Homo sapiens: one gene and its partner. The protein of the gene in region 2 interacts with the protein of the main gene of each other region in a biochemical or structural test. Each region holds a gene or a part of one and is shown on either strand. Other genes may lie near its edges.

Region 1 (7,000 bases), on a different chromosome or scaffold from region 2:
AGAAAGGAAATTAGGCTCCAATGAGGCCTCTTCAGTACTTTCGATGGGTAAACCTTCTTGGAGATGGTACAAGTTTTGCTGAATTCCACATCACAGTGGTACTGAAAAGCTCTCAGGTAAATAAAGAAAAACCTTTCCGAAGGACTTTGTGAATGAGCAAAAAGCTGCTTAAGGGAACTGGCACACAGCCAGGTGCCCAGGGACTCCAGCCCAGTCACGGGTCTGTCTGTGTAAAAAAGACCTCCCTTCACACTCTCTTCACTTTCTACCTCACCTGCTTCCAATCAGTTCACAACAGCCAAGACAGGGAAACAACTGTCTGTGGATGGGCCAATGGATAAAGAAACTGTGGTGTGTATATATAGACAAGGGAACACTATTCAGCTGTAATAAAGACCCTGCCATTTGCCACAACAGGAATGAACCTGGGGAACATTATACTAAGTTAAAGAAGTCAGACACAGAAAGAAAAATATTGCATGGTCTCACTTATACATGGAATCTTTATTAAAAAAAAAAAAAAGACGAAACTACAGAGATAGGGAAAAGAGTGGTTCCTAGGGGTGGCGAGTGGGAATGGAAGATGTCGGTCGAAGGACACCAAGGGCAGCCACACAGGCGAACAGGTCTAGAGATCTGATGTGGAACATCGGACAAGAGCTACTCATAGTGCACTGTATTTGGGACTTTTGTGAAATGAGTAAAACTGCAGCTGCTCTTGCCATGTGCACACACACACACACAAGGGTAACTGTGATGGGGAATATGTTTATCTGCTTCACTGTAGCAACTATTTTACTATCTCTATTTCATAACATCTGTGTATACTTTAAATATACACAATTTATTAACATAAATAAAATTCCTCCAGATACACTGTCTTCTCTTACCAAAACACATGGTTTGGTTAGCTGGTTTTTTTTTTTGAAGACAGTCTTGCTCTGTCACCCAGGCTGGAGTGCAGTGGTGTAATCTTGGCTCACTGCAACCTCTGCCTCCCGGAGGTGGTTTTATGTTGCAAGTTTTAAATGCAGATGAAGTCTAATATATATATATATATTTTTTTTTCTCTCTCTCTCGTGGTTATTGTTTATGACCTATCTTATGAAACCTTTGCCTACCCCTAAGTCATGATGACATTCTCCTGTATCTTTTTCTTTTTTTTTTCTTGAGACAGAGTCTCACTCTGTCACCCATGCTGGAGTGCAATGGCGCTATCTGGGCCACTGCAACCTCTGCCTCCTGGGTTCAAGCGATTCTCCTGCCTCAGCCTCCCTAATAGCTGGGATTACAGGTGCCTGTCACCACACCTGGTTGATTTTTGTATTTTTAGTAGAGACGGGGTTTCACCATGTTGATCAGGTTGATCTCGAACTTCTAACCTCAGGTGATCCACCCGCCTTGGCCTCCCAAAGTCCTGGGATTACAGGCATGAACCACCGCGTATGGCCAATTAGCTGGCTTTTCTCTTACTCCCTAGCAGTGAGCAGCTGAACTTGACAGAGTAGAAGGGAGGAGCTCCCTGTCCCCTGCAGACATGCGCCAGCAGGGAGAGAATAAGCCACGGGGGCTGACAAGGGAAGCATCAGGAAGTGCAAGAGAAGAGCAGGCAGGGGAGCAAGATGCAAACCATTACGTCCAAGAAGTCTCAAAACAAGCCTCACACCTTCCCCCTTCACCAACATGGCAAAACCCTAGAAAAGGCAAATATTAAGTTATTCCAGAAAAGCACAAACCTGATGTGTCCACCAAAAATGCCGGTGATTGGAGTCTGAACAAAATCCGCCTGGCGGGTGACGGAAGTCTTGTTCCGGGGGCCCACTTGTTCCCATTCATCCTCGCTTCCTTCACCTTGTTCTTCCTGCTCTTCTTCATTGACCGAGTGGTTTTTGGGGCCGTTGGAAATCGTAAGTTCTGAAAAGGAGAGCATCTGCTTACACTACTATTTACGACAAGAACAGCAAAAAAAAAAAAGGCACAGATCTGTCGATTGCAGTTTTAAAAATGAAATCAGGGTGTGGTCTACATTAGGAGCCACGGCAACCAATCGCAACAGGAGCAACGTCACTGGATCCACGGCCAATCGCAACAGGCACAATGTCACTGGATCCACGGCAACCAATCGCAACAGGTGCAACGTCACTGGATCCATGGCAACCAATCCCAACAGGCACAACGTCACTGGATCCACGGCAACCAATCGCAACAGGTGCAACGTCACTGGATCCACGGCAACCAATCACAACAGGCGCAATGCCACTGGATCCACTGCAACCCATTGCAATGCCACTTGATCCACGGCAACCAATCGCAACAGGTGCACCACCACTGGATCCTTGTTTACATAAACTCCTAGAAATGACATCCCTGGGACAACTGGCGAAATTTGAAGATGCTCTGCAAAGTCGGTATTACCGTGTCATTACAGTTGTTTTTCTCAGTTAGATAAGGGACTGTGGTTACGCAGGAGATGCTTTAGCACCTGAGATGAACTAAACTGTTAGCTGCAACTTAACTTTGAATCATTCAGGGAAAATGTATGCGTATGTATGTATATATGGATGGACAGATAAGACATATATATATATACACAGTGTGTGTATAGCATCAGAAAATATGTTTAAAACTGTACACTCGGCAATTATAAAGGTATTCATCAAACGATTCTTTCAGCTTTTTTATAGGCTTGATCATTTTCCTAATTAAAAGTTAAAGGAAAATGGCAGAGGTTCGGGATAAACTGTAATTTACCTAAATATAACCTTCTCGATGGTGTAAGTTATCGTAGGGAATAAATGCTATTTGAAAGGAAAACGACTGAGGGGCAGGGAAGCAACATAACATATGAGTATGCAACACCTGTTTACAGCGAACTCTTGCACAACTCTGCGGCAAGTGGACCATAACCTACTTTCATTACTTGGTGAGAGAAGCTTCTTTAGGTTCAACATTTCCTCATGAAGTCCATTTAGAATGAAGCCTAAGTATTCCTCAGCATCTTCTTGTCGACCCTGAAAAGGTCAAATATAATCACGTTACTGTGAACTGATCACTGTCAAAGGCCTGCAGGACATGCAGTACTTGCAAAGTCCAACCATGCCTCCTCTGAAATGGAAGATGTAAAGTATTTCCAAACAATGACATGATGACATGGGTTTCCCTTGCATAGCTGAAATCCCAAGAGTAGGAGGAAAAGGAGAAACTGACTAAACACATATCTCTAAATGGGTGGACTAATGGGGATTTTTATTATTTATACTTTCTGTATTTTTGAAATTTTCTTCAATAAATATACTTTTTTTTTTTTTTGAGACAAAGTCTCATTCCGTCACCCAGGCTGGAGTGCAGTGGTGCAATCTCAGCTCAGTGCAACCTCCAGCTCCCGGGTTCAAGCGATTCTCCTGCCTCAGCCTCCCGAGTAGCTGGGACTCCAGGTGTGTGCCACCATGCCTGGCTAATCTTTGTATTTTTAGTAGAGACGGGGTTTCACCATGTCGGCCAGGCTGGTCTCAAACTCCTGACCTCAGGTGACCTGCCTGCCTTGGCTTCCCAAAGTGCTGGGATTACAGGCATGAGCCACCACACCTGGCCACATTACCTTTATCACAAAAAAGTTATTTAAAAAAAAGTTTCTGTCTTGGGTAAACAAAATAGAAGACGAAGAACTAGATGTCTAGGGCCAGTTCACTGTTCAACTGCAAGGGTCACCACTCGAGCAATGAGCTAAGCAGCCCTATGTCTGCTTCTGTCTGTCTTTGATGATGGACAACTACATGGGAAAGAACTCAAACTACATGTGGAAAAACTCCACTGATTTAGAGCGTTAGCTGTGTTACACATACATCAGCAAAATCATTCACAGACGAGTCACCCAAGAGTTTAATAATCCCACATCACGAGTGTTTGATTCTGTTACTTATCATCAGTTCATATTTCATTCTTCACAGCACAACTGCCTATTCCAAGGCCCTGCAAATTGTTCTGTTTGAAGCATCTAGGTAAACTGCAAAGTTTACTTGCCCTCTCCAGATAGTAGACGTGGACAGCAGCTGTTCACGTGAGTGCATGCTCTGCACGTGTGCAGAAAAGGGCAAAAACTGGCACAGCCAAAGTGTGCTGAAGACTTTTCATAGCAGGCCTGGGTGGCTCTCCTTGGAAAGGCCTGCTTGCAAGGTTGCCCCTTGGCTGGTGTCTGGGAATTTGGATTTCAGAAAGGTTCCCATCGGTCCAATAACTGATACGGGATTCTGCCTAAACCGTTTGCGCAAGCAATGTGCTTTCTGCTGAACACTTTGCTTTTGTTTTGGGAGTTTGGACTTTTGGTTCAAGCCAGGCAGATGGTACCTATGGGACCAGCCCTCAGTAAAAACTCTGGACACGGAGTCTGTAATGACCTTCCCTGGTTGGCAGCATTTCACGTGTGGTCACAGTCTGGTGCTGGAGTAGTTACGCGTAGCCTTGTGGCCCCACTGGGAGAGGAGTCTGGAAGTTTCCTTTAGGCCCTGCCTCACCTGTCCTTTCCCTTCCTGACTCTGCTCCGCATGCTTTTGCTGTCAGCAACCATAGCCACGGGTATACCAGCTTCTGCATTTTCTGAGTTCTTCCAGTGAATCACCCAACCTCAGGGTGGTCTTGGGGAGCCCAACACATCCCCTATTAATGTAACCTTTAGAAGATGCTTTTGTTCATAGCATTATCTCTGTGCACGATCCAAGAGGGGTTCCTGAGCACCCACTTTATTTTGCCTCCACCTGTGCTAGGTGGGCCCCTCTGGGTTCTAAGGCATCTCTGTATCTTTGTGCTTCTCTTGTTGACTATTCATTAACTCATTCCCTCACTGAGGGCAGAGGGCGCACTTCATTCCATTTCTGCATCCCTAACACCATGTTCCCATTACTTGGGAAGTGCAAATTCCAAGCCAATACCAAAAGCTGCATTATAAGCATTTAAAAAGCTTAAGACCCTATGCTACCCCTGGTGGTATCCTGCAACGATGCCCTCGACATTCACTCTTCTTCAAAGCAATGAAGCTTCAAGTAAACTTGACTTAAATGGCATTTTCTCAACTATTTTTCTCTCTGAATACATTTCCCTAAGCATCATTTCAACTGCTTGTACTGATTCATCACAAACTCAATCTGGGAGGAAAGAAATGCTCCAGTTAACGGTGCTAAGGGCGGCCCAAGTCACTCTCAACAGCCCCAGGGCCTTTTATAAGGGCTCCCTGGCCCCTTGGTCTCATGCCTTTAGTAACAAAGTATGTGATTAAAAAAAAATTAGGTAAAGGAATCAAGTACATCAAATAGCTACTAAAGCCTGTAAGTATGATGAAGACATAAGCTCTTCTGAATACTGCCATCATTCCAGGCCCAGTGCACTCCATTCTACCCCAGTGGCATATAGTGCAGTGGTTAAGAGAACTGACTTGAAAGCTGGGTTCTGCCATGTACATTAGCTACCTGACCTCAGACAGTGGCTTCACTTCTCTTAACCGTAACAAGGAGACCATAATCATACTTTATTCAGAGTCAACTAAGTTAATATATGTAAAGTACTGAGAGCAGTGCTTGGTGCACCATATCATCCAAGCAATGGACTCTTATAAACCTACATCTACTTATAGCGCTGGAGACAGAGGGCAAATATCAATAAGCAACAGTTACCACACAAACACTGGAACAAAAGGCAACACTTGATACTAGTGACAACAGAGAAGTCTCAAACCTTTTCAGACAGGCTTGACTTGTTAACTGTCAGGAGTCTGTAAATATATGTGGGCTCAAAGGCAGCTCCAGGGCGAATATCCCTCACGATTTTATCTCCAAGAGCTGCAATGGAAAGAGGACACAGGTTTTCCTAACTACAATGAACTCATAAATGATGAAAAAAGCAACATCATCAAAACTCCCCCACCTCCCACCTGGCTGAATGTTGAGAATGGCATAGGTGTAAAGACACTATCTTCCCAACAAGACTGAATTTACCAAATTTAAGTCATCTGTCTCCATAACTCCCAATATGTAATAGCATCAACAAAACTCATTTTTACTAACCTTGTCGGGGTTTTGGAGGTACTGGCATATTAGTGAACTCATTCATTAGCCGAACACTAAACATGGGGAAAAAATGTTAAATAGTGCAGTTTTAAACAATATATACTTTTACTAAAGAGCTTTGATGGCTAAGTAGAATATCAGCTATACGAGTATAGTAGATTTTAGGTAACCAATGCTGTAACAGCTAGTGAACTCAAGTCTCTTCTATATGCATTTTTGGTCTATTTCAAGTGATATATGCTGGTAAACGCTAAAATATTTTCTACTGAATCTAAAGAACACAGATCATCAATGCTCCAATTCCATTTCTGGTTAACTTCCATATAAAATCGCCAACAGTCTATTTTTAAAAAAAGACAGAATTATAGGACTCATTTGCAGGAAATCAAGAGCTTTACTAAACTATTTCAATTCTAATTATCAGACGGGAAAAACCCCACCACTTAACACATCTTTCACCACCTTACTTACAAGCTGTCTATCATGGGTGTTGACGTACAAGGCCTTTGCACTTTGGAATACAGAGGAATGAACTTCATCAGGTGGTACATCGGCGGGCAAGCAACCAATGCCTGCAGTGTCTATGTAGTGGCAGTAAGGAAGCGTAAAGGAAATGAACAGACACACCACATTTCCTGAAGGCACATGAAGCACAAGAATGTTTATAAAAACACAAGGAAGCTAAGGACGTTGAACTACTTAGATATGTCACCACGAAAAGGAATAAACCAAATAGTTACTAGGGTAAGTGTCCTGTGATGTCCATATAAGGATCTACGAAGCAGTCAGTCGTTTGTATTCAAGAACTTGACCTAACCAAGACAGTTCAATCAGTTAAAACCAAATTTCCAGTTGTAAGTGGTTGCTCTGCCCTATTATTTGTGACTATTCTAATGAGAGCCAGCTTGTCTGCAGCCCTCATTCACGTGCCAACATATCCTCTC
Region 2 (8,969 bases):
TAGGTCTCGGGAGAAGGCTGGGAGCTCCACCCCAGTCCACTCGTCATGGGTTCCCAGACCTGGCCCCATTTCTGAGTTGCACACATGAGGATTTCTTCATTGTTTTATCTCAGGAAGGAACTTGTGGGTTTGACTCCTTATTGAGGCAGAAATGGCAACCCCACCCAACCTCTTCCAGGCCCCAGCCACAGCTGTCTCTCTCTTGGCCCCAGCTTAGGTGTCAGCCTCTCAAATCAACCCCTACCCTCACAGAGCCCCAGAGAAAATAGCCTGGCCTGGAGCCAGAAGTGAGACAGATAAATTACAACGCTACCCCTAGTGCATGTCCCAGGAGCCAACTCCTAACTCAGCAGTAAACAGAAGGGACTCAGCTTCTAAGGAAGCATCTGGAAGGCAACTGGGAGTGGGACTCTCCCTATGGGGAGGCAAGGGGTTGTGTTTGAGGGAAAGTGGCCACCTTTCCCCATATCCAGGCAACCAGAGAATCCCAGTGTTAACTGGTGGAGAACACACCCCTGGGAGTGCTTAGCTTCAGTAGGTGGCAGCGGCCATCACATTCCTGACTTTTAAGGCAACCTGGTCTAGCTAGAAGACCCAGGTTCTACACTCATCTGCTCAGTGCGATGCTGAGGCAGGACCTTGCCCTCCTTCCTTGGGCCTCAGCCTCCTCTGCTGCACACGGATTTGGACCAACTGGAGTTCTCAGAGGTCCCTTCCAACCTTGACCTTCTAGGAAGTCTTTTGGGCACTCCACCCCCAGCTCAGGCAGAGGGAAGAGTACTTTTTGCCTGTACTGAAAAACCCTCATACGTGGGCACACAAACCACCTCCATCTTTTCACAAAAAGGAAGTTCCCCTTCTACCTTCCAGCCCCAACCCCTCCAAAAACATCTTGCTCTCTGGCCCTGGAAACTAGCTCCACCTTCAGACTTGCCAAAAACTACCAGATTCATCACAAAGAGCTGTGGCGCCTCCTGGATTCCCAACTCTGGCCTCCTACTCCCATCTCTGAGCTACTTGGCAGGAAGAGGAATCCTGTTCCTCGACTCACAGCAGTCGGGGGCCCCAGTACCCTGGCTTCCCTGCCAGCCAATCACAGCAGCCTGCTTGCTGCCCTCCTCCCTGGGAGATGGGGCCCAGAGACTCCTCTCAGGGTCAGCAGAAGACTTGGCCCGCCACAGAGCAAGGTGGAGGAAGGTGCCAGCTCACCCACCCTCTCCCCCAGCCTCCCTAGGAGACAATCTGCATGTCCTAAATAACCTCTTCCAGATCCAGCAGCTCCCCCGCCTCCTCCCCAGGCTCCTTCTGAGGCGGGACAGAACCGGTGACTTTCCTGCCCGGCCTGAGCCCAGCCCAAGTTTCCAGCAAGAGGCCCAGGGAGCCACTTCCCAAACCACAGGAGTGACAGCAGCTCCCCACAGGGTTATGAAAGACCTTGGTCAGAGAGGGCGGGCCAGGGGAGGGGGCACCATTATCACATCGGAAGCAGATGCAGCTCACCTCCCTGTCTGTCCCTCAGCTTGGGCCTTGGGCTAAGGGGGGAAGAGGGAGCTGTTTCCACCAGGCCCAAAGCAGCTGCTCCAGTTCCTCAGAATGAGGACGAGGAAGGATTAGGAAGAAGCTGTTTCTTCCGGGATATAAGAGGAAGCAAAGAAGGTGGGATGAAATACATCAGCCCTTCCTTAAAGCAATCAGGGCCTGGCTTTAATTGGCTCTGGGAGGCTTTTCTATCACAAAGTCCACATGAGGATAAAGACTCAACCAAGGCAAAACCCCCTCCCCCACATGAAGCACATTCCACTCCCCTACTCCAGTGGGGGTGTGCAGGCATGCCCTTCTGCTGCCAATAAATAACTCATGGTGGCTGCGTAAACCCAGAGGCAAAGTACTAGTGAGTGTAGACATGCAATTTGACTTGTTGCTATCTGGGGGAAAGACCAGGAAGGAGTGGCATCCCCTGGAGGTCAGGAGGAGGGGGTTTAATGCCTGCCTGCAGCTCAAGCCTGGGCGGGAGTGATACTAACCATCACACCACAATGCCCCATCGTTTGTTCCACCCCAATTCCTTTCCCAAAGGTCCTGATCCCCTTGCTTCCTCTCCAGGGGGCAGAAAGCCTCTGATATCTCAAGCTTTCCTTTTCCTGGAAAGTGGGGAGACAATACGTGTCGGGGGTGGGGGGAGTTACACACGCACCCGCAACTGGCGGGGAGAGACAGCGTGGTCGGTGTAGATGCACAGTTTTTCGATGGTCAGGGGCGTGGTCTCGCGCAGCTTGGAGGCCAGCAGCATGCAGACCGCACCCAGGAGCTGCAACTGCGCCTTTCGGGTGGGGACGCAAGACAGGTAGCGATCCAGGTAGTTCATGGCCAGGGGGAAGACTTCCTCCTCACAGCGCTGCTCCTCACATACCTGGGGGAGGGCGCACAGTCACTGCTGGGTCTGGAGCGTGGGGAACACAGCAGCGGGGGGGTGGGAGCGCTGAAGTGAGGTGGGATAGGGAGCAAAAACGGCAGAGAGGGTAAGCTACTTAGAGAGACAAGGACCAATAAAGGAGGAGGATGCGCCCTCCCCAAGGTGACGCCCCCCACTTCCTCTGCGCGGCCTCCTCCCCTCTCCCCTTGACGGGGGAGTGGTAAAGCCAAGGAGCCCTTGCTCACGGAGGATTCCAAACGGAGACTCCCCTCCCCCACAGCGAGGGGAAGTGGGACGCAAGGGTCACCCATGGTAGCCAGAGAGCTGGGACCTCACCCCCATCACCGCCACCACTGCACACACCCGAGGGGAAGGGAGGAGGCTCCTGCCGCTGCCTCCTGCACTTTTCATTTCCCTGTCGGCCGGAACAGGGCGCGCGCCACCCCCATCGCCTTCCCCGCCAGAACCCCGCGAAAGACACAGGAACCGGCTCCCGGGCGGGGGCGGCCGAGCCCAGGGTTTTCCAGGCGCGCTCTCCGGAGAAGGCCGGGAGGCGGAGGGAAGCGGGAGACGCTGTGAGAAGCCGAAGGGGAGAGAGTGTCCTTGGTCCCGTTTGCTCGGCCCGAAGAGAGGCACAGTTAGGGTGCCAAGTGACTGGCAGTCACTGTCGGGAGGAGCCGATTAGGGCTCGGGAAAGCAAGGGAGGCAGCTGGCGTGGGTGCCCTAGTGAAAGGCCAGGCCCCGGGAGTCTTAGCCTCGGAGCATCCTGCAGATTGCTGTGGGGACCGGGATGTCCCGACAGGGCGGCCCCGGTGTGTCCAGACCCGGGAGCGGTGGGGGAGGGGGACGCGTCCGGGCGGTACCTCCAGCATCCAGTAAGCCAGCATCTTCCGCATGTGCGGCTTGATCTCCCGCTGCACGCACTGGAAGTAGGAGGCGCGGGGTACGTAGCGCTCCTCCAGGCGGAGCAGGCTCTGCAGGACACGCTGGTCCCCCAGCAGCCGCGGGTCCGGCCCGGCCCGGGGCGCGTGCCGGGTGCCTTCGCAACACAGCAGCTCCATACTCGGGCAGCGAACAGGCAGGGCGGGAGTGCGGGCTCGCGAGTCCCAAGGCAGGCGACGGGCCGGAGAGCGCGGGGCGCGGGTCTGGCGCTGGCGCTGGCACTGCGCGGCGGATCCCCAGCCCGCCCGCCGCCCGCGCGCGCGCGCCGCTTCCCTGACAGGCGCCCCGCCCCTCGCGACGATGTAGCAACCGTGGAATGCTCGGACGTCGCAACGCTCCGAGGGGCGGGGCTGCGGCGCCCCGGACGGAAAGGGTTGGCTGAGCGCTCTCCCCTCCCTCCCGCGGCCCCATTGGGCCGCTGAGCGCAAGCCGGCCGGCTTCCGGGCACTCCAGGCCCTCTGGACCACCGGGTGCAGAGAACTTTCTAGGAGGTGGGCCTCCTACCCACCCACGGGCCCTCCCATTTTGCTTCTCGGACTCTAGTCACCCAGGAAACAATTTTTCTCCAAAGGTCATTCATTCACTTATTCATTCGTCAAACCCTACTTCACCGGCTGCTTGCTCTAAGGAATGCGATAAATAATGTCAGAGCTAGTTCTTAGTGAACGCTGCTCGAAAGCCTCACGATGTAATGACTCACTACATCTTCACGAAAACTCGGAAACCGAGGCAACTGTCATTCAGTTGGTCCGTGGCAGAGCTAGGATTGGGAAGCTGGCCTTCTTGCTGCAGATTCTGTGTTCTACACCATTGCTAGTTAAACTGTGATCCCAGACCTGTCCCGTGCGTGGTCATCGCCTGGGAGCTGGTTAGAAATGCAGACTCTCAGGCCCACCCCTAACCTGAATCAGAATCTGCATTTTAACTAGATTTCTGTGCACTTTAAAGTATGAGAGCTTTAGTCTAAGTCAGCATATAACAGAACGGAAAGGCCATGGAGTCATGGCCTCACCTTGTTAAGTTGCTTGCCTAGGTTTGGACAAGCCCCTAAAGTCGGCCTTAGTTTCTGTTTGGAGAAACTGTGGACGGAGAAACTAGATTCTCATTGAATCAGTTTCTTGCACAGACTCTGTGAGATCTACCGGTTGCATTTCTTCCACCTCCCAAACTTTTGGTTACTTTGTAGTTTTACCGGAAGCTAGATTCCACTTGACGAAGAGGCCGAAAAAGACCTCCAATAATGCTCCAAATGGGAGGAGGCCATGAGGATCCCTGCCCTACTGGGGTCCTCCTGACTTAGGAGACACTAAGGAAGTGTCTAACCATTTTCTGTTAATTATTCTTTTTTTTTTTTTTTTTTTTTTTTGAGACGAAGTCTCACTCTGTTGCTCAAGCTGGAGTGCAGTGGTGCGATCTGGGCTCACTGCAACCTCCACCTCCCGGGTTCAAGCAATTCCCGAGTAGCTGGGACTACAGGCACGCACCACCATGCCTGACTAATTTTTGTATTTTTCGTAGAGATGGGGTTTCACTATGTTGGCCAGGCTAGTCTTGAACCCCTGACCTCGTGATCCGCCGGTCTCGGCCTCCAAAAGTGCTGGGATTACAGGCGTGAGCCACCGTTCCCGGCCGAATTATTCTTTCTTATATTATAAATTGTATTGTAGTTTTCATATCATAAAATATTCTTTTACATTGTAGAAAACTTCAAAAATACAAATAAGCCACAAAAAAAGGAAATAATCATTTGCAATTTGCCATGAAATAACCCTTTAATATATCAATGTTTATTTTTCTAATCTTTGTTCTATGAATAAACACACATTTTAAATGGAATCATCACAAACTGTTTTGTAAGCTTTTTTCATTAAAAAAATACTGTTAACACTTTTCCATGCTATTAAATATTCTAGGACATAATTTGTAATAGGGACATAATATACCATTAGGTGAATGTACAAAATGTATTTTGGCAAACCTGTATTGGTGGAAATTTAAATTATTTCTAGTTCTTCTCTATTAGACATAATACTGTAAAATATTTTTGTGGTAATATCTTTGTGCACACTCATGATTATTTCTAGAAGTGAATTAATTTCTAGAAGTGGAATTTCCCAATCTAAGGTTATGAAACATTCTAAGGCTTTTGATACACTTCTAATTGCCAAATTTTCCTGCTGAATAGTTAAACCAATCTTTTCCACCATCATTACATATCTATTTTTCAAAACAACTCTGCCAACTAGAGAGTGAAAGTGGCTTATTAGTAATAATAAATCTATTTTGGCATATTACTAGACATTTACATTTCTTATGTACATTACCCATTCATGTCCTTAGCTTATTCATTTATAGGGATGTTTGTTTTCTCTTATTGACTTATAAGTTCTCATCACCTCTCAAAGATATTAACCCTTTTCATATTTTTTGTTTGGTTTTTTAACTTTGGTTATAAAAATTCTTGACATAAATTAATTTTTAAAATCAGTATTTTTAAAACTTCTCATTTATAGTAACATGGCACTATGTATAAAAATGTCCCATCAGCCCAGCACTTTGGGAGGCTGAGGCAGGAGGATCACTGGAAGCTAGGAGTTGAAGACCAGCCTGGACAACAAAGCAAGACTCCTATCTCTACAAAAAATAAAAAAAAAAAATAAGCTGGGTGCGGTGGCACAAGCCTGTAGTCCCAGCTACTAGGGAGACCGAAGCAGGAGGATCGCTTGAGCCCAGGAGTTCAAGGCTGCAGTGAACCATAACGGCACATGACCTTCCTTAACATTTTGTTATCATACATTTTGCAAAAACAAAATTTTAGTTCATTGTTTTTACTAATTTTTGGTTCACGGTGGATTTTTTTTTTTTTAACAAATAGAAGGGTTTTTTGTGTTTTTCTTTGTTTTTTGGTTTTCTTTGTTTTTTTGACACAAAGTTTTGCTCTTGTCACCAGGCTGGAGTGCAGCTTACTGCAACCTCTGCCTCCTGGTTTCAAGTGATTCTCCTGCCTCAGCTTCCTGAGTAGCTGGGATTACGGGTGCATACCACCATGCCCGGCTAATTTTTGTATTTTCAGTAGATACGGGATTTCACCATGTTGGCCAGGCTGGTCTCGAACTCCTGACCTCAAGTGATCTGCCTGCCTCAGCTTCCTAAAGTGCTGGGATTACAGGCACAAACCACCGCACCTGGCAAATTAGTTGCTGATTTATTAATTGAGGGAGGGCCACATAGACTGACTAGTCCTGAAAGCTGGATGTGAACCTGTAGTATGGGGACGGGAGCTCCTGGTGAGCAGGACTTTAGGAGAGATACTTCTGCCTCACCCCTGGATGGAATAGCCATGCCTAGAGCTAGATCATCCCTGACTTTCAGGGCCAAGGACTGGCCACTGGGGAGGCAGGTGAGCTCAATGCAGGACCAGCACAAGTTCACCAGTTACCTCCACCTCAAAGAAATAGAGGCTCCTCTTGTTTTTCTTGTTTTTGTTTTTGTTTTTCTAAAAGGAAAACTAAAGACAAAGCAATGACCAGGGCCAATAGTATGAGGAGTTTCTACCCAGGTACATCCAGTTAGAAAAAGTCAATAAAATGGCAAATTGGAGGAGGGGTGGGAATGGAATGTCACAGGCCAAATAAGAAACCCCAAGGAGGAAAGATACATTTTCTTTCTCTTCCTCTTCATCATCAAAATACCCCCATCTGGGCCAGGCACGGTGGCTCACGCCTGTAATCCCAGCACTTTGGGATGCCAAGACGGGTGGATCACCTGAAGTCAGGAGTTCGAGACCAGCCTGGCCAACATGGTAAAACCTTGTCTCTACTAAAAATACAAAAAATTAGCCAGGTGTGGTGGTGGATGCCTGTAATCCCAGCTACTCCGGAGGCTGAGCAGGAGAATCACTTGAACCCTGGAGCCAGAGGCTGCAGTGAGCCGAGATCGTGCCATTGCACTCTAGCCAGGGCAACAAGAGCGAAACTCTGTCTCCAAAAAAAAAAGTCCGCATCTGAGAAGTGAGAGGCTGAACAAGGTGATGGGTGAGGCCCATCACCCCACAGTCCACATGCCATGGCTTAGTTACCTTCAGACCCATTGAGATGCTGGGGAGAGCCAAGCGAGCCATGGGGCTGAGAACAGGGGTGCTAAACAGGGTTCTGGAGTCAGAGACTGCTTTCAGTTCAAACCTGGCTCCACAGCTTATGACTTTGAGAGAATTACTGGAACCTCTCTGCTTCCTCTTTTATCCAGTGGGGATAATATAATAGCCCTATAATGATGTTCTGAAAATTAAACAAGCAGAAAATGTCTTACCTGTGCCTGGCACAAAGCAAGCATTCAGAGATAGTAGTTTCTGAAATGATTATTATTATTCCCTTTCTCAAGGAGTACCCTTTCTGTTATGAACATGCATCCATAACCCCTCTAAGAAAAGCAAAAGTTTGAGCAGCAAGAGCCCTACTCCTAGAATTGCATCTCTAGCAAATCCTGAAGACCTGGCTTCTAACGGTAAACGCATGGTCTAGCGTATGGAGAGGACCCTCCAGGGCCTGGAGCCACACCCCTCTGCCACTCCACTCCCTCACTGTGTGAATTTGGCTAAGTTAAACCACCTCTCTGTGCCTCAGTTTCCTTTTCTAAAAATGGTGATAACAGTAGTACCCCCCCACAGAGTGGTTGTGAGGAGGAAATGGGTTGATTTGTTTAAAATACATAGAAGAGTGGCTGGCACGTGGTGAACCCTTTTTTAAAAAGTTAGTTGTGATTGCGGGACTTAAAAGCACAAAGTTGGCCGGGCACGGTGGCTCACACCTGTAATCCTAGCACGTTGGGAGGCAGGGGCAGGCAGATCACTTGAGGCCAGGAGTTTGAGACCGCCTGGCCAACACAGTAAAACCCCATCTCTACCAAAAAAAAAATATAAAAATTAGCCGAACGCAGTGGCGCACGCCTGTAGTCCCAGCTACTCAGGAGGCTGAGGCAGGAGAATTGTTTGAGCCTGGGAGATGGAGATTGCAGTGAGCCCAGATCGCACTACTGCACTCCACCCTGGGCAACAGAGACCTGTCTCAAAAAAAAAAAAAAAAAAAAAAAAAAAAAGCAGTAAACCAAACTACATATAATTTAGCTTTTTTCTTTGAGAATCAAGGAGCTATCTCGGTGCTTACAGTATTCCAGGTCACTATTATGAGCATCTGTAATATTTGTACAATATTTCACATTAATCTTTAAAACTCTTTGCTTGTCCATTCCTATCAGTAAAAATTGAGCACTCTTCGGCTGGGCGCGGTGGCTCACACCTGTAATCCCAGCACTTTGGGAGGCCGAGGTGGGCGGATCACCTGAAGTCAGGAGTTCAAGACCAGCCTGGCCAACATGGCAAAACCCCATCTTTACTAAAAATACAAAAATTGGCTGGGTGCAGTGGCTCACACCTGTAATCCCAGCACTTTGGGAGGCCGAGGCGGGCAGATCACGAGGTCAGGAGATCGAGACCAGCCTAACCAACATGGTGAAACCCCATCTCTACTAAAAATACAAAAAAAATTAGCTGGGCATGGTGGCGCATGCCTGTAATCCCAGCTACTCAGGAGGCTGAGGAAGGAGAATCGCTTGAACC

The links. Proteins that work in one complex are often made in the same cells at the same time.
Region 1: of the proteins of CCND3 (region 2) and USP10, one has a biochemical effect on the other in vitro, tested with the Homo sapiens proteins (one study listed by BioGRID).

Annotation. Positions count from the first base shown.
Region 1 is NC_000016.10:84,759,000-84,765,999, reverse strand, and holds part of USP10 (ubiquitin carboxyl-terminal hydrolase 10), read right to left. Parts: intron 6,638-7,000; coding exon 6,528-6,637; intron 6,110-6,527; coding exon 6,054-6,109; intron 5,829-6,053; coding exon 5,725-5,828; intron 3,012-5,724; coding exon 2,912-3,011; intron 1,915-2,911; coding exon 1,737-1,914; intron 1-1,736. UniProt on the Homo sapiens protein: Hydrolase that can remove conjugated ubiquitin from target proteins such as p53/TP53, RPS2/us5, RPS3/us3, RPS10/eS10, BECN1, SNX3 and CFTR.
Region 2 is NC_000006.12:41,938,176-41,947,144, forward strand, and holds the start of CCND3 (G1/S-specific cyclin-D3), read right to left. Parts: upstream 3,634-8,969; 5' UTR 3,475-3,633; coding exon 3,277-3,474; exon of another isoform or gene 2,987-3,276; coding exon of another isoform or gene 2,777-2,986; intron 2,411-2,776; coding exon 2,195-2,410; intron 1,031-2,194; exon of another isoform or gene 1-1,030. UniProt on the Homo sapiens protein: Regulatory component of the cyclin D3-CDK4 (DC) complex that phosphorylates and inhibits members of the retinoblastoma (RB) protein family including RB1 and regulates the cell-cycle during G(1)/S transition.